Linked DNA regions of Homo sapiens: region 1 is linked to region 2. The links come from fine-mapping of genetic effects on gene expression. A gene starts in region 2. The other region holds a variant in brackets. All regions are shown on one strand. Distances are between the middles of the regions. Region 1 overlaps RFX1 (regulatory factor X1). Region 2 holds the start of RFX1 (regulatory factor X1).

What was found. PIP is the estimated chance that this variant, and not a neighbour inherited with it, causes the effect. A credible set is the group of variants that fine-mapping cannot tell apart.
Region 1: its variant is the best candidate, but not a certain one, in a credible set for the expression of RFX1 in aorta (GTEx, PIP 0.62).

The regions. Positions count from the first base shown.
Region 1 is chr19:13,972,196-13,980,195 of GRCh38, reverse strand. It overlaps RFX1 (regulatory factor X1), which reads left to right. Exons shown (of 21, transcript NM_002918.5): 7 at 654-749; 8 at 2,110-2,204; 9 at 7,069-7,453. Among named protein-coding and RNA genes, the nearest start is that of DCAF15, 24 kb to the right of the region's middle. RefSeq lists enhancers at 1-169, 170-696. The variant A/C (reference allele first, on the strand shown) is at 3,551.
Region 2 is chr19:14,000,683-14,011,285 of GRCh38, reverse strand. It overlaps RFX1 (regulatory factor X1), which reads left to right and starts at 4,966. Exons shown (of 21, transcript NM_002918.5): 1 at 4,966-5,183. RefSeq lists enhancers at 4,156-4,683, 4,684-5,211, 5,212-5,740 and silencers at 4,935-5,114, 5,165-5,544.

The DNA of each region.
Region 1 (8,000 bases), 30 kb after region 2:
AGCCTCTGCAGGAGGCAGAGCCCTGAGCCGGCGCAGGTTAAGATGCTGGGGCTGCGCACCATCTGGTTGTTACCACTGAAGTTGAGGGGGTTCCAAGCCCCTTGAAAAAACAGATGAAATCCATAGACCCTTCCCCAAGTGTAAACAGAAACCCTGTCCCAGAGGTTTCACAGATACTCCCCCGCCTGGCACTAGAGCCCCCCCGAACCTCCAGACCTAGGTCCAGGCCCCAGCTCCTCCACTCAGCACCCTCCTCCGCCAGCCTCCGTCCCTGGCTCTGCGCCCCTAGGATAATCCCCGCATGCCCGCCACAGCACAGAACAGGGCACACAGTTGACATTGGGGGGTGTGGGGACGAAAGATAACCCAAGGCCTTGCCTGCGGGTTCTTGGCACAGCTTCAGGGGCCCGTAGGGAGAGGGGGCGGAGAGCAGAGACCCCGAAGTTAGTCCCAGGTTCAACTCAGCCCTGCTGCTTCCTGGGAGCCTCACTTTATCAGTAATGGATCCAGCACCCTCCTTGCTTGGCTGGAGAATGGTGGCCTCTTGCTTATGGGTCTGCTGTGAGCTTTACAGAAGCTCACCTGTGCAGGGGCTGGGTAGGTTGACGGCCATCGTTGCCATGGTCATCTTATTGTTGCCTTTCCCCTCCCAGAGATCTGTGGTCCAGGCCACTCCACAAGCGCCCAAACCCGGCCCGGTGCAGCCGCTGACCGTGCAGGGCCTCCAGCCAGTCCACGTGGCTCAAGAGGTGTGTGTCTCCCCCTCCTACCCCACGGGCAAAGGGGCTGGTCCCGGGCTGGGGCTGGGGAGTGCAGGCCCCTGAGGCCGCAGGGAGGGAAATGCCTCTGTGAGCTGCAGACACTGCCCTACATCCTTCCCCTTTCCCGGCCCCCTGGCAGCTCAGGGTCCAGGTTTTGCTAAGAGAGATCTGGATTCAAACCCCTCTTCTTTCTTGCGTGGCCCTGGGTCAGTTCTAACCCCTCTCCGAGACCCCGGGCGGCGGGGATCTTCCCTCGGGTGGCTGCGTGCGCGCTCAGCAACCCGGTGGGTGGAGGCCTGGAGCCCCGCCCGCGGCCGCCCCCGTTGACCCCCCAGTGTCTCTGTTTGTCCTCCAGAGCTCAGGCAGTCAGTTTCCCGCTAGGAAGGCAGAGCAGCGAGATCCCCGGCCCACGCCGCCGCCGGAGCCGCCGCCCCGGCCGCCCGCGTGCAGCGGCGAGGCCCCGCAGCTAGGCAGCCCCGAGCCGCCGCCGCCCCATTACGAGCCGGGCGCCGAGCAGTGGGTGGAGCTGGTGGGCGTGCTGCCCCCACACCTGCTCCTGCCGCAGCAGAAAGTGGTCTTCGAGCCACTGTCCCGGCTCCCGGCCCGAGCCAGCCCCGACCAGAGGGTCAGGATCCAGAGAATCCCCCAGGTGCTAGTGTTCGGCACGGCCGCCACGGCCCTCAAAGTAGGTGGCGGACGCACGGGCGGGGGGCAGCGGGCGGGCGGGGGCGGGGGCGCCCAGTCTGGGCCGCCCACCAGGCCCCGCAAGCCCTGTAGACCCCACCTCCGCCCGACGGGTCGGTCTAGGGACCCGCCTCTGACTCCCCACCCAAGCCCCGTCCAGGTCCCAGCTCCGCCCCTGCAGACAAGGGTGGGGGATGGAGGTGGGGGACTCAGGCCCCGCCCCTAAGGCCCTGTCAGTGATTCCAGGTTCTGTCCCACCAACCGGGGCCCCAGGCTCCGCCCCTCACATCCTGTGCCCGGTTTCCAGGCCCCACCCCTGAGGCCCTTTCTGTAGCTCCATGGCTCCAGCGATAGCCTTGCCCCTGTGCCTGGGGTCCAACCTTCACGCCCACTACAGGACCCTGTCTCGGGTCCCCTCCACTGTCCGTCAGGCCCCACCCTTGCTGGCCCCAGCCGAAGCCGAGAGTCCTGGCTTCTCCTGACACAGCTCTTCCTGATTCCCAGCCCTGGCCTCCTCCAGGGTGTTTTGTTGAGAGTCCAGAAGCCACCCTTGGGTCCGGGAGCTGGGCGTCAGGGATAGCCTGGGTGGGCACCAGCCCTTTAGAGGGAGAACCGTAGGAGCTGGCCCACCCCTGACCCTCCACGTGCCCTTCCTCTGCCCCAGGTGCAGCAGCTCCAGCAGGTGCCCGTCCCACACGTGTACTCCAGCCAGGTGCAGTATGTGGAGGGCGGCGATGCCAGCTACACGGCCAGTGCCATGTAAGTGAAGGGAGAGGGGTGGGTGAGGGAGTCAGGTCTGCACTGGAGCCTCCCCAGTCTCCCAGGACACCAGTCCCCAGTCCCAGCCCCCAGCAGGCCATCCGGCCTTCAAGGCCTCAGGTGACAGACACACAGGTGGGCACTCCCCAGGGGCAGCCACAGCCACGAAAAGTGGCGAAGCAGAGGGACCCTTGAAGGTTGGGAAAGGCACCCCGGCATAGCTTAGGGCTTGGGAGTCAAATGAGCCTGGTTTTTAACCAAAAAAAAAAAAAAAAGGCCAGGCACGGTGGCTCACGCCTGTAATCCCAGCACTTTGGGAGGCCTAAGCGGGCAGATCACTTGAGGTCAGGAGTTCAAGACTAGCCTGGCCAACATGGTGAAACCCTGTCTCTACTAAAAATACAAAAGTTAGCCAGGAGTGGTGGCAGGCACCTGTAATTCCAGCTACTCGGGAGGCTGAGGCAGAAGAATTGATTGAACCCAGGAGGCGGAGGTTGCAGTGAGCTGAGATCGTGCCACTGTACTCTAGCCTGGGCAATAGAGTGACACTCCATCTCAAAAAAAAAAAATCATTTGACTCTCAACCCTGTCCCAGAGAGGATGCTGTGACCTGTTTCTTTGTTTCTTTCCAGAGATACTCTAAGAACAGAAACTCTAGCCCTCTATCCATTTTTTTCTTTTTTTTTGTTTTTTTTTTTGAGATGGAGTCTTGCTCTATCGCCAGGCTGGAGTGCAGTGGTGTGATCTCGGCTCACTGCAACCTCTGCCTCCTGTGTTCAAGTGATTCTCGTGTCTCAGCCTCCCGGGTAGCTGGGATTACAGGCACACACCACCACACCCAGCTAATTTTTGTGTTGTTAGTAGAGATGGGGTATCACCATGTTGGTCAGGCTGGTCTTCAATTCCTGACCTCGTGATCCACCCGTCTCAGCCTCCCAAAGTGCTGGGATTACAGGCATGAGCCACCGCACTGGACTTTTTTTTTCTGTTTTTTTTGAGACAGGGTCTCACTCTGTCGCCCAGGCCAGAGAGCAGTGGCGCGATCAGGGCTCACTGCAGCTCACGGGCTCAAGCAATCCTCTTACCTCAGCCTCCCTAGTAGCTGGGACTACAGGTGTGCACCACCATGCTCAGCTAATTTTTGTATTTTTGTAGAGATGGGGTTTTGCCACGTTGCCCAGGCTCATCTCCTCGAACTCTTGGACTTAAATGATCCTCCCGTCTTGGCCTCCGAAAGTGCTGGGATTACAGGCATGAGCCACAGTGCCCAGCCTCTACCCGCTTTCTGTGGTCAGAAATAGACGCAGGACATTCCATCCATACCTTATTTCTTTCCTGGCTCTTCT[A/C]CCATGTGTCCTCGTGGGTCCTGGTCACCCTCTTAGCTGCTGTGTAATAACCCCTGTGCAGATGCAGCAGCCACGATGTCATCAGTCCCCACCCAGTGATGCATAGGGGGCTTCTTCCCCTCCCTGGGTACAGCACTACCATTCCTGTGTATGGGCCGTGTCAGGCAGGGGCCACGTCCTGGCCCCGCTTCAGTCCCGGCTCGGGCTCCTCGCCGGGGGTCCTCCATGCCACCTTCCCTCTCCCATCTCCACAGAAATTGCTGCAGTACTAGAGTTACTGTTGGTTTAGTTTCCAGAGGTTTCACTTGGTTTTCTTTGCATTTGCATGATTTCTTTTTTCATCCCTGCCACTTGTTCTTCTGGGGACAATGCTGGGATTGGTTAGCTCATGGATCGACTTAGTCCTAGGGTCATGATGCTCTGACCGACCCCAGTGGGCCTGGTCCAGGCATCTAAATCGTGAGGCTTGGTCCCCGGCGTCCGGCTACCTCACAGTTCCATTTGTTTCTTTCCAGTGCTGCTAATCTTTTCACTGTGTGGTTGAGCCAAGCTGGCAGGGGCCAGACAGGGCATTGCAAAGAGGAACACGGTGTCCAAGGGTTCCTGCTGCCATCCCTGGTAGCGTCTCTCCTGTCTCTCCTTTGCTTCTGTCTGAATTCCTCTCTCAGTGATCATAGTGTGTGTGATTGCACCTAGTTCATCGTTGCTATCGGGTTTTTCTGCTACGAGAAGTTGTTGGGGGCCACTCCTGCTGTCAGCTGCCCACCCCTTCTGTCTCTCCCTCTGAGTGAATTACTGCGAGTTCCCGACCCTTTGCCAGCCCTATCCCCACCCTGGCCAAAGCCACAGCCCCTGGGCCTCCATCCCTGGTCCTGTTCTGGGGGGCATCCAGAGCTGCACACATTCATTTATTCAGTCATTCAGCAACCATCTACCAAAGCAACCTTTTTGCAGCACACATTGCATGCTGGGTGTGCAGGAGTGAGCAGGCTGTGGCCCCCGCCTTGGAGAAGTAGGGGCTCTTGCTCAGGTCATGTGCTCTTGGTGTCACTTTGTGTGGTAGACATAGGGCAGGACAGAGAGATCGAGAGCTGGACCTGATGTGTGACAAAGACCATGCTTCCATATCTCCTTCCACTGTCCCCCTCAACTCCCTCTCTTTGTTCACCCACAACCACTCGGGCCTGTGCGGCTCCCTCCCCTGCCACCTTCAGAGTCTGAGCCAGGCCACCTCTTGACTGACCACACTGTCTTTCTGGATGTTTAATTTTTTTTTTTTTTTTTGAGATAGAGTTTCCCTCTTGTTGCACAGCTGGAGTGCAATGGTGCAATCTTGGCTCACTGCAACCTCCACCTTCAGGGTGGTTCTCCTGCGATTCTCCTGCCTCAGTCTCCCGAGTAGTTGGGATTACAGGCGCCCACCACCACACCCGGCTAACTTTTTGTATTTTCAGTAGAGAGAGGGTTTCATCATGTTGGCCAGGCTGGTCTTGAACTCCTGACCTCAGGTGATCCACCCGCCTTGGCCTCCCAGAGTGCTGGGGTTACAGGTGTGAGCCACCGTGCCTGCCCCTGCCCCCCTCCCTTTTTTTTTTTTTTTTTGAGGTGGAGTTTCACTCTGTCACCCAGGCTGGAGTGCAGTGGCATGATCTCAGCTCACTACAGCCTCCACCTCCCAGGTTCAAGTGATCCTCCTGCCCCAGCCTCCTGAGTAGCTGGGACTACAGGCGCCTGCCACCATGCCTGGCTAATTTTTGTATTTTTAGTAGAGACGGTTTCACTATGTTGGCCAGGCTGGTCTCGAACTCCTGACCTCAAGTGATCCACCCGCCTCGTCCTCCCAAAGTGCTGGGATTACAGGTGTGATTACACTGCACCTGGCCTAATGCTATGTTTTTAATCACTAGTACATTGAAAGAGTTCAAAGATCAAAACTATGTCCAACGATGTTTAGCGAGATGGTGAGAGGTGCCCCCTGCCTGTCCCCCTCGACGGAGCCCTCCATGCCCACAGATGACAGACACGCATGCCACATGCAACGCATTCTTCCCTATTGTTCGGTCACACGGTCCCCACTCTTCTCTGCCTCTTATCTGCCCGGTGTTAGGTTCTGGAGCTTGTTCTTTCGGGGGACGACAAGCCTTGCCTCCTTCTCTTTCACCCCTGCATAGGATTCCATCATCTTTTGTTTAACAGCCCCTTGAGGTTGAACCCCTGGTGGTTTTTATACTTGTATACTTGTGACGATTTGCAGCCTCAAGCCTGTGTCACCGGTGCCCATCCCGTCACGCGATATCTGAAGGAGAGAGGCTTCCCCAGCCTGGGATAGGTAGCTTGGCTCAGGGGAAACATATCTGCATTCCTGATGGTCTTCTCCAATCACAGCGTCGCCTTCTCTAGTCCCTTCCAATCACAGCATCGCCTTCTCTAGCCCCACCCCCTTCCTGCTTCACTCACTGCCTGATCACCTTCTGTTATGATCTCTCATTTACCTTTGCACGTGGCTTCTTGCCTGTCTCCCCAACTAGACGGTTCCGGGGGCCGGGGCTTTTCATTCTTGTCCATTGCTGTGTCCAAAGTGTGTGAAACAGTGCCTAGCACACAGTAGGCACTCGAAGTACTTGCCAATTTTATTTTTTTAATGAAGTGTGTAGCATTCCAAGTTCCCTAACCCTTCGGTATTTTTTTTTTTTTTTAATTAAAAAGACAGGGTCGGCCAGGTGTGGTGGCTCATGCCTGTAATCCCAGGACTGTGGGAGACTGAGGCGGGTGGATCACTTGAGGTCAGAAGTTCGAGACCAGCCTGGCCAACATGGTGGAACACCAACTGTACTAAAAAAATACAAAAATTAACCTGGTGTGGTGGTGAGCCCTGTATTCCCAGCTCCTTGGGAGGCTGAGGCAGGAGGATAGCTTGAACCCAGGAGGCGGAGGTTGCAGTGAGCCAAGATTGCGACACTGCACTCTAGCCTGGGTGACAGAGCAAGACTCTGTCTCAATAAGTAAATAAATAAATAAAATAACAAAAATAAAAAGCCAGAGTCTCACTGTCACCTAGGCTTTGCTGCAGTGGTAGTATGGTTATAGCTCACTACAACCTTGAACTCCTGGACTCAAGGGATCTTCCTGCCTCAGCCTCCCAAGTAGCTGGGATTGCAGGTGTGCACCAGCATGCCTGGCTAATCTTCATATTTTTTGTAGAGATGGGTTTTCACTATGTGGCCCAGGCTAGTCTTGAACTCCTGGCCTTCAACGATCCTCCTGCCTCTGCTTCCCAAAGTGCTGGAATTACAGGCAGGAGCCACCATGCCCAGCTGATGATTATATGAAATACTGCCCATCAAGCACTCAGGATGGTACCCAGTCCGTTGTAGATGAATGCTAGGATCTGCTCCTTGCTGCAGGGGAGCTGCTGCTTCCCCAGTCCCCTCCTAGGACCCCCCTTCCTGCACAGTCATGCCCCTCGGCCCCCCAGTTCTCATCCCCCTGACTCTCCCTTGGCTTTGCCTCTTTCCCAGCCGTTCCAGCACCTACTCCTATCCCGAGACGCCGCTGTACACGCAGACGGCAAGCACCAGCTACTACGAGGCCGCAGGCACGGCCACCCAGGTCAGCACCCCCGCCACCTCCCAGGCGGTGGCCAGCAGTGGCTCCATGCCCATGTACGTGTCCGGCAGCCAGGTCGTCGCCAGCTCCACCAGCACTGGGGCTGGGGCCAGCAACAGCAGCGGAGGTGGTGGCAGTGGTGGTGGCGGCGGCGGCGGGGGAGGCGGTGGCGGGGGTGGCAGTGGCAGCACCGGAGGCGGCGGCAGCGGAGCAGGCACCTACGTGATCCAAGGCGGCTACATGCTGGGCAGTGCCAGCCAGTCTTACTCTCACACCACCCGTGCCTCGCCAGCCACGGTAAGTGCCCCAACGCGGGCCCCAGAGGAGGCAGGCAGTGGTGGGTGGTGGGCACTAGAAGCCCAGTCCATGACGGTGGTTACCAACCACCGCTAGCAGGAGCCTGTGTGGCCCCCAATGAAGAGAACATATGCAGATGTCCTGGGATTGAATGCTGTGTGGCCTCAGATAAATTACTCAGCCTCTCTGGGCCTCAGCTGATATGCATGAAATTCTTAACACAATACTACAGAAGTGTTGTCTATTGTTGGCTGGGCGCTGTGGCTCACACCTGTAATCCCAGGACTTTGGGAGACTGAAGTGGGTGGATCACCTGAAGTCAGGAGTTCAAGACCAGCCCGACCAACATGGTGAAACTCCATCTCTACTAAAAATACAAAAATTAGCCGGGCATGGTGGTATGCACCTGTAATCCCAGCTACTCAGGAGGGTGAGGCATGAGACTTGCTTGAACCTGGGAGGTGGTTGCAGTGAGCGGAGACTGCGCCACCGCACTCAAGCCTGGGAGACACAGCAAGATTCTGTCTCAAAAAAAAAAAAAAAATGT
Region 2 (10,603 bases):
CCTGATGTGACTTGTATTGCCAGCTGGGATTCATTCTTGGGCACTGCCTGCCTGGAAGTCTCATTAATTCTTGCAGGTACTGTCAGGGCTGGGACTCAACCGGCAATTCCAGGCAGACTGGAGCTGCTGCTTCTCCTCTTCTCCCATCCAGGGTCACACCCAGGGCACTGGAAAGTCCCATGAAAAGAGATGGGCTCTGGTTCCTCCAGCTTCGTGATCTTGGGGTGGAGATGTTACAGGAAAGGGGGGTCCGATCCAGAGTCCAAGACAGGGTTCCTGGATATCACGCAAGAAAGAATTCAGGGCCTGGTGCGGTGGCTCACGCCTGTAATCCCAGCACTTTGGGAGGCCGAGGCGGGCAGATCACGAGGTCAGGAGTTAGAGACCAGCTTGGCCAATATGGTGTAACCCCATCTCTACTAAAAATACAAAAATTAGCCAGGCGTGGTGGCGCTCGCCTGTAGTCCCAGCTACTCGGGAGGCTGAGGCAAAAGAATCGCTTGAGCCTGGGAGGCGGAGGTTGCAATCAGTCAAGATCGTGCCACTGAACTCCAGCCTAGGTGACAGAGAGAGACTCCGTCTCAAAAAAAAAAAAAAAAAAAAGAATTCCAGGTGAGTCCGTAAAGTGGAAGCAAATTTGTAAGGAATAAAAGAATGGTTACTCCATAGAGCAGCCTCGAGGGCTGTATTTTTTTTTATTTTTTTTGAGATGGAGTCTCCATGTTGCCCAGGCTGGAGTGCAGTGGTGTGATCTTGGCTCACTGCAACCTCTGCCACCCGGGATCAAGCAATTCTCTTGCCTCAGCCTCCTGAGTAGCTGGGATCACAGGCATGCGCCACACGCCCGGCTAATTTTTGTATTTTAAGTAGAGACGGGGTTTCGCCATGCTGGCCAGGCTGTTCTTGAACTCCCGACCTCAAGCGATCTGCCAGCTTCGGCCTCCCAAAGTGCTGGGATTACAGGCATGAGCCACCACACTCAGCCTTATTTCTTGATGATATGCTAAACAAGGGGTGGATTATTCCATGCCTCTTGTTTTTAGTCCATATAAAGTAACTTCCTGGCGTTGCCATGGCATTTGTAAACTGTAATGGTGCTGGTGGGAGTGTAGCAGTGAGGACCAGACGTTACTCTCATGGCCATCTTGGTTTTGGTGGGTTTGAGCCAGCTTCTTTACTGCAACCTGTTTTATCAGCAAGGTCTTTATTTATGTATTTTTCTAAATTATTTTTAAAATTTTTATCTTTTTTGAAACAGAGTCTCACAATGTCACCCAGGCTGGAGTGCAGTGGCGCGATCCTGGCACACTGCACTCTCCACCTCCCGGGTTCAAGTAATTCTGCCTCAGCCTCCCTAGTAGCTGGGATTACAGGCGCACGCCACCACACCCGGCTAATTTTTGCATTTTTAGTACAGATGGGGTTTCACCATGTTGGCCAGGCTGGTCTCAAAATCCTGACCTCGTGATCTGCCCACCTTAGCCTCCCAAAGTGACGGGATTACAGGCGTGAGCCACCACGCCCGGCGAGGTCTTTATTTTTATTTATTTATTTATTTATTTATTTATTTATTTATTTATTTATTTGAGATGGAGTCTCACTCTGTCACCCAGGCTGGAGTGCAGTGGGGTGATCTCGGCTCACTGCAACCTCTGCCTCTCGGGTTCGAGCGATTCTCCTGCCTCAGCCTCCAAGTAGTTGAGATTACAGGTGCCCACCACCACGCCCATCTAATTTTCGTATTTTTATTAGAAATCGGGTTTTGCCATGTTTTCCATACTGGTCTCGAACTCCTGACCTCAAGTGATCCGCCCACTTCCGCCTCCCAAACTGTTCGGATTATAGGCATGAGCCACTGCACCCAGCCAGCAAGGTCTTTATGAACTGTATTTTGCGCTGACCTCCTGTCTTATCCTGTGACTAAGAATGCCTTAACCATTTAGGAATGAAGCCTAGCAGGTCTCAGCCTCATTTTACCCAGTTCCTGTTCAAGATGGAGTTGCTCTGGTTCACACGCCTCTGGCAGAGAGGGCACCTACTTCCTCTCTCTGGGCATCCATTGCCCACCTGTCAAGAGCGGGGAGCGTCCCACTTTGCTGGGTTCGCTGGGAATTATGTGGCTATTATTACCTCTACAACCTTATCTCTCCTGGCTTTAGCAGAAGTTCCTGTTCCCAGCTTTGAAGGCAGTTCTCTCCCCCCGTTTTTTTTTTTTTTTTTTGAGACGGAGTCTCACTGTGTTGCCCAGGCTGGAGTACAGTGGCGCGATCTTGGCTCACTGCAACCTCTGCCTCCCAGGTTCAAGTGATTCTCCCACCTCAGCCTCCCCAGTAGCTGGGACTACAGGCACGTGCCACCACACCGACCTATTTTAGTATTTTTAGTAGAGACAGGATTTCGCCGTGTTGGCCAGACTGTTCTGGAACTCCTGAACTTGGCCTCCCAAAGTGCTGGGATTACAGGCATGAGCCATCATGACCGGCCCCTCCACCTGGATTTATGAGGCTTGCTTCGTCTCTCACCACTCAGGCTCATTCTGTGGGACATCCCCCCTCAGATAACACTGGCTACAGCATCCTCTCATTCTCCTACCCCACTCTCTTATGTTGCTCTCAGGACTCTAAGGAGCCTATCTTACAATTTATCTGTTTATTGTGTATCCCATCCTAGAATGCAAAGGGAGTTGTTTGCTTTCTTTTTTTTCCTTTTTTTCTTTTTTTTCTGAGACTCAGGCTGGACCACACAATCATTGCTTACTGCAGCCTCTACCTCCGGAGCTGAACCAATCCTGCCAGCCTCAGCCTCCAGAGTAGCTGGGACCACAGGCACATGCCACCACGCCTAGCTAATTGCTTTTTTTTTTTTGAGACAAAGTCTCGCTCTGTCGCCCAGGCTGGAGTGCAGTGGCAGAATCTTGGTTCACTGCAACCTCCCCCTCCCGGGTTCAAGCAATCCTCCTACCTCAGCCTCCGGAGTAGCTGGGATTACAGGCATACACTACCATGCCCAGCTAATTTTTGTAGAGACGGGTGTCTTGCTTTGTTGCCAAGGCTGGTCTTGAACTCCTTGGCTCAAGCAATCTTCCTTGCTTGGCCTCCCAAAGTGCTGGGATTACAGGTGTGAGCCACCATAAATGAAGTCACCTTTCTTCACTTGTATAGCCCAGGGCCTTGCACCGAGGAAATATAATGTTGGTTGAATTAGGAAACAAACTTAGGTGGAGTCACTTTCTGAATGCCACACAGCAGGGCTGGCATTAGACTTCAGGGCTGTCTGAGCCTGTTTTCTTTTCCCCTTGCTGTTCTAGGGCCTACCTGGGATGAGAATGCAAAATTTAAGAGAAGGCCAAAGAGCTCAGTCATAAGATAATTGACATTTAAAACATAAAAAGTAGGCCGGGCGTGGTGGCTCACGCCTGTAACCCCAGCACTTTGGGAGGCCGAGGCGGGCGGATCACGAGGTCAGGAGATCGAGACCATCCTGGCTAACACGGTGAAACCCCGTCTCTACTAAATATACAAAAAATTAGCCGGGCGTGGTGGCGAGCACCTGTAGTCCCAGCTACTCGGGAGGCTGAGGCAGGAGAATGGCGTGAACCTGGGAGGCGGAGCTTGCAGTGAGCCGAGATTGCGCCACTGCACTCCAGCCTCAGCGACAGAGTGAGACTCCGTCTCAAAAAATAATAATAATAAATTTATTTTAAACACAAGATCTGACCCTGAGCTTGCATAACGCATCTCACCTTAATCCCTGTGTTGGCGGATCCTGTCTTTATTTAAAATTGTGATGTTTTGTTCATCATAGATTTATTTTTTCCCATTAATTTGGATATTTAACAAATATTGAATTAGAAGATTATTTATCTTGATGACTGAGTTTTTGCTCCCAAGATGTTCACCCTAGTCCGGGCCCTGTTTCTGTCTCTTCTCGTCCTGCAGCACCCAGACAGTCCCTTGAGGAAACTGAGGCACAGAGGAGCGTATGTGTGGGAGGTGTGTGTGTGTGGCGGGGGTTGTGGTGAGCTCTCCTGGGCGGACCAAGCTCCCTGGGCTGGGTCGGGGCTGACCTTTGCTTATCTACCGCGGTTGAAGCCGCGAATGAAGTCCCCCGCCTTGCAGAGACCTTTCCCAAGGCGGCCGCACCGCCTGCGGGGCAGAGATAGCCGCGGTCACCCCGGCAGCGGTGACCTTTTCCGGCTGGAGGGGACCGGGAGGCGGGAGAAGGCGCGGCGGCCGCGCTGTCTGGCCGGCTTGGGCGGAGGAGGATGTCACCCCAGCGGGTGGGAGCTGGGATCGAACCCCGCCGCGGCCTCCCGCTTCCACCCAACCCCGACGGGGCCATGGGCAGTGGGGAAGGGGGACGCGCGCCCAGTGACGTCATCGAATCCCGAGTCCGGCCTTCGCCGCTGTCGTCACAGAGGGGCTGCGCTGCGTCACTGCATTCCTCCCCTGACGTCAGCGCAAGAAGCCAGAAACTGGCCCACCGAGCGAGAGAGAAGTCTGGAGCGGAGTCTTCCTTTCTCGCCTTTTTAATTTGGTAAGACATGTAAAGTGTACGCAAGAGCGGACTACAACTCCCAATCGGCCTTGCGTGCCGAGCATGCGCACGGCCTCCAGCCAGAGAGCGCGGCAAACCTTTGGTAGATTGACGTCCCTTTAGTCGAACCAGGAGGCCGGTTTTACATCGGCAAACCAATCCCGTCCTCACGAGTCCTACCCCTTTATTCTTAACCAGCTGCTTCCCTGCCGGAGTGACGGGCCCGGCTGCCTTTGAGGGTTCAGTTTCTTTTGATGGACATTCATACTGATAAATCAGATCGCCGGGAAGTCCAGAGGGTGTTGAAAAGCGTGCATCGGAACTAATAGTTTAGCTGCAAGGCCTGGCGCCGTCCAATCACTTCTCCGGCCGCCGCCAATCACCCCGGGCCCCGCCCCCGCGCGTGACGTAACTAGGGTGGGTAGCAACAGTTGCCCCGGTGAGGGAAACGGAGGCGCCATAGCCACGGTAGTCGTGGCGACCAAGCAACCCGGCAACGCGAGTCAACAACAACAACCGCCCGGCCGACCCCCACCCCCACCCCCCAGGCCCGGCCCGGGGACCCCAGCACGTCCCGTCCCCTTCCCAACATCGACTCCGAGACCTCCGAAAAGCGTTTCCGCAGACAGAAGTGGGGAGAAGCGGAGGTAACCAGGGCGGCCCCGGGGTGGCTGGCCGGGCCGGGGTGGGCGGCGGGGCCGGGGCAGTAGGTGTCTCTGTAATCACAGTCCGGGGGGAAGGGGCGGGCGGTCAAAATGGCGGCGGCGACTGTCTGGACCGTGGGGGAGGGGGCCGGGGCCCGGCTGGAACGACACCACCCGCCCCCGTCCCCGCGGCCCGGCCCCCGCGAGGGGCGGGCGCTCGCAGGCCCGCGGCGAGTGGAGGTCGGCAGGCCGGGGCGGGGGGCTTTTATATGTCGGGAGCGCGAAGGGGCGGGCCTGGGGAGGCTGGGCCAATGGGAGCGAGGGAGGTACGAGGCGGGGCCAAGGTGGGTGGGCGGGACCAGGAGGGAAGGTATGGGCGGGGCCGGCTGGGTCTCCCCAACCTCCACCTCGGGAACCAGGGTGGGCAGCCACCACCCGGTCCGCCTTCCAGATCCTTAAGCGACTCCCTTCTTCCTTAAGAGCTTTGCAGTTGTCCCAGGACTCAGAACTTGGACAAGTGCCTGTCCATCTGAGGCCTCAGTTTTCCATCCTGTAAAATGGGGAGAATCATTGACATCGCCCTTTTCCTGCAGTACCGGGACTCCTCATTCCTTCCAGGAATTTTACTTACGGCTTATCTTTGAACCTTTTCCTCGTATCTACCGTTTCTGAATGTGGTTTGATAAAATAACTGTCAGCTAGTCCTGATTTCAACACTGCAGCCCACTCCTAAACCTGCCACCTTCTCTCTGGGAGGAAGCAAAGAGGAAGCAAAGTTTCATGGAGGAGCTAGGAGTCGATTTGGCTTTAGCGTGGAGGATCTGGTTTGCAGAAATCAAAGTCCATGGTAGGGAGGAGTGACCATGAGGGAATGCTTTAGAGGAACAGAAACCTGAGTGCTTTTCTCTGGGCTGCTGTTTGAGACCTGATGTTTCCTGGTTTGAGGTTGCGGGGGTTTGTTCCTGGAGATGGAACGTTTCTGGGTCCTGCCCATCGAGGTCTCCCCTACTGGGAATGGGGGAGCAAATGAAGCCTGAGGAAGTTTCTTAGATTTTTTAAACCCGCTTCTCTTGGCCAGACACATGTTTTTGTGTCAAACGAGTGTCAACCGAGTCACATGTCACTGACAAGGTCCCAGCCTCTAGGGCCACGTGGGCAGGAGCGGTCAGAGGGAAGGGGAAGCTATCCATGTTTGTGAGAGGAGAATCTTTGCCACTGCTTTTTAGGGTGACAATATCCTGCCAGCTCGGGGAGGAATTTTTTTTTTAAGTAGCCAGCCAGGCCAAGTCTAGTTGGCTTATTCTCCGTCTTGCTTTTGAGCTTAGTGTCGGTGTGCAAACTGCAGCCATTTCCTTTTAAATCAGTCAATACATTCCAAGGAAAAGGATCATTTCAGGCTTTTTCCCAAGAGTTTGAGATTGGTCTGGTGGGGGTTGGCGGGTCCTAACTTCTCCAGGTACTTTTTCTAGGCCTGGCCCTTTTTAGAGGAGGCAGGGACTCTTTGAAAGTTAGGACAGGTGGAGATTAATTTTCAGTAAAACAAACAAAAAAGCTAGAAATGCCAAGTTGCTAGACGGATCATCAGCACTTTTTTTTTTGGAGACGGAGTCTCACTCTGTGGCCAGGCTGGAGTGCAGTGGCTTGATTTTGGCTCACTGCAGCCTCCGCCTCCCGGGTACAAGTGATTCTCCTGCCTCAGTCTCCTGAGTCGCTGGGACTACAGGCGCTCGCCATCATGCCCGGCTGATTTTCGTATTTTTAGTAGAGACGGGGTTTCACCATGTTGGTCAGGATGGTCTTGATCTCTTGACCTCGAGATTTACCTGCCTCGGCCTCCCAAAATGCTGGGATTACAGGCGTGAGCCACCGCGCCCGGCTAGCCCTTCTTAAAAAAGCTAACTGAGCAGGCTGGGCGTGGTGGCTCACACCTGTAATCCCAGCACTTTGGGAGGCTGAGGTGGGCGGATCACCTGAGGTCAGGAGTTTGAGACTAGCCCGGCCAACATGGTGAAACCCTGTTTCTAAAAAAATTAGCCAGGCGTGGTGGCACATGCCTGTAATCCCAGCTACTCGGGAGGCTGAGACACAAGAATTGCTTGAGCCTGGGAGGCGGAGGTTGCAGTGAGCTGAGATCACAGGCCACTGCACTCCAGCCTGGGCAACAGAGTGAGACTTGTCTCAAAAAAAAAAAAGCTAACTGAGCAGAAAGTGATGTTACCAATTATCTGGTCATGTTGACTGCCTCAGTCACCAGTTACATTTACAGATGAAGGGCCTGAGGAGTCATTTGACTAGGAAGAGAACACTAGGGTGATTTGAAGCTGACTTGAAACAGTCAGCTTTTCTAGCTGTGTGCTCTTAGGTGAGTTACTTAAGTTTTCTGGGCCTCAGTTTCCCTTCCTTTCATCTAGGGGCAGTAATCCTTGGTAGTCCTTTCAATCTCATGTTTCTGTGCTATGGATCCCAGAAAATAATACCTGTTGAATATCAAATACATAGGAATTGCTGAAACTAACTAAATACAAAGTAATTGCTAATGTAGTTATGTTAGCCTCTGCTGTTACGGTGATTGTCGCTTCCTGTTCAACCCTCGGAAATACACCGTTGGCTTTTATTTTTATCATTTTGAATCCAGTGAGAGCCCTCGTGGCTTTAAAGGTTGACTTGCTTCTCGCTTGCTGGGCTGTGTGGGTCGATGACAGGGATCCAGGAAGCTGGATACCAGGGATCCAGTTTGTAGTGGGAAAGTCACTCCCCTGGCTGCTGAATGGCTGTTCTCTGGCTTTAGGAGAGTCACTAGAAAGAAAAATCCTGGCCGGGCACAGTGGCTCAATTTGGGTGCTCACTCCCCCAGCACTTTGAGAGGCCAAGGTGGGTGGATCACTTGAGGTAAAGAGTTGGAGACCAGCCTGGCCAACACGGTGAAACCCTATCTCTACTAAAAATACAAAAAGTAGCCGGGCATGGTAGCACATGACTGTAGTAGTCCCAGCTATTTAGGAGGCTGAGGCAGGAGAATCCCTTGAACCGTGGAGATGGAAGTTGCAGTGAGCCAAGATCGTGCCACTGCACTTGAGCCTGGGTGACAGAGCAAGACTGTCTCAAAACACACACACAAAATGCTACTTGGGCTCAGGCCCAGACACAGTCCCAAGCCTTCCAGGAGGCAGCTGGGTGAGCGGGGATGTGGACATTGTGGGAACGGTGGGGAGCTTGGAATGGCGTCTCTGGAGCCGAGGTCCTCACCCTTCTCCTCTGTCATGTACCTGAGCATCTCAGGGAAGGGGATGGCCAGGCTGCCCCGCCCGCAGAGATGCTGCCTTCAATAGCAGCTGTACAGGACGTGGTCTTCCTAGGCGAGAAAGACTTTCTCCCACCTGCTTCCCAGGCCTGTTCTGGACCAGAAGGCATTGCCTGGCTCTGTAGCACAAGCAGGCTTGTGGCAGGAAGTAACTTTCTCACACGGTCTCAGCAGTTGATAGACTGGAACCTGCCTTTGATGCTCACTAGCAGTGTGTTCTGGTGCATCATTTATGCTGCCTGGACAGTAAGAGTCAAAACCCCCACTATTTGCCTGTCAGTTTTCTTTTCTTTTTTCTTTCTTTCTTTCTTTTTTTTGTTGAGACAGAGTCCTACTCTGTCGCCCAGGATGGAGTGCAGTGGCGTGATCTCAGCTCACCGCAACCTCCACCTCCCCAGTTCAAGCAATTCTCCTGCTTCAGCCTCCCGAGTAGCTGGGATTACAGATGCCTGCCACCATGCCTGGCTAATTTTTTTTTTTTTTTTTTTTTGAGACAGAGTCTCACTCTGTCATCCAGGCTGGAGTGCAGTGGCACGATCTTGGCTCACTGCAACATCCACCTCCTGGGTTCAAGCAGTTCTCTTGCCTCAGCCATCCGAGTACCTGGGAATACAGATGCCCGCCACCATGACCGGCTCATTTTTGTTTTGTTTCGGTTTGGTTTATTTGAGACGGAGTGTCTCTCTTGTTGCCCAGGCTGGAATGCAATGGCGCAATCTTGGCTCACCGCAACCTCCACCTCCCAGGTTCAAGAGATTCTCCTGCCTCAGCCTCCCGAGTAGCTGGGATTACAGGCACCCACCACCATGCCCGGCTAATTTTTGTATTTTTAGTAGAGACAGGGTTTCACCATGTTGGCCAGGCTGGTGTCGAACTCCTGACCTCAGGTGATCCACACGCTTTGGCCTCCCAAAGTGCTGGAACTATAGGTGTGAGCCACCGCAGCAGCCTAATTTCTGTATTTTTAGTAGAGACAGGGTTTCACCATGTTGGCCAGGCTAGACTTGAAATTCTGACTTCAGGCGATCTGCCCGCCTCAGCCTCCCAAAATATTGGGATTACAGGCGTGAGCCACTGCTCCCGGCCTTGCCTGTCAGTTTTCTAGGAGCTGAGACAGAGACCAGGCCCACCAGGTCTCTGCCTGTGGGGCCCTTACCTTTCCAGTCAGGGAGGGAAGAGGAACTAGGAGGAAGAAAATAAATCCAGCCAGACTCAGTGGCTTATGCTTGTAATCCCAGCACTTCGGGAGGCTGAGACATGAGGATCACTTAAGCCCAGGAGTTTGAGACCAGCCTGGGCAACATAGCGAGACCCCATCTCTTAAAAAGATTTAAAAATTAGCCAGGTGTCGTGGCACAGGCCTGCGTTCCCATATACTGTGGAGGCTGAGGCCGGAGGATCACTTGAGCCCAGGAATTCAAGGTTACAGTGAGCTGTGATTGTGCCACTGTGCTCCAGCCTGGGCAACAGAGTGAGACCTTGTCTCTAAGAAACGAAAAAGAAAGAAAATAAACTCAACAGGGAAACACAGTGTCAGGAAGCAAATAAAATAGTAGTATGTGCTTGAGGGTACCTTCAGACCCAAGGAAGTGTGTACGAGCTGAGACCTGAATAAGGAGGAGAAGCCAGCCGTGAAGGTGGCGGTGGGGACAGCATGCCAGGTGGGAGGAAGAGGTGGGGCCGAGGCCATGAGAGGCAGGAATGGATCTGCAGCATTTTTTTGTTTTGTTTTGTTTTTTGTTTTTTTTGTTTTTGCAGAGAGGCTCACTGCAACCTCTGCCTCCTGGGTTCAAGCAATTCTACCTCAGCCTCCCGAGTAGCTGGGATTACAGGCACACGCCATCACGCCCACCTAATTTTTAAAATTTTTTTGTCGAGATGGAGTCTCGGCTATGCTGCTAAGACTGGTCTCAAACTTCTGGCCTCAAGCAATCTTCCTGCCCTGGGCTCTCAAAGTGCTGAGATTACAGGCGTGAGCCGCCATGCCTGTCCAGGATATATTTTAAAGAGACAGGGTCTTGTTCTGTTGCCCAGACTGGAGTGTGGCGGTGTGATCATAGCTCACTGAAGCCTGGAACTCCTGGGCTCAAGTGATTCTCCCACCCCAGCCTCCCGAGCAGCT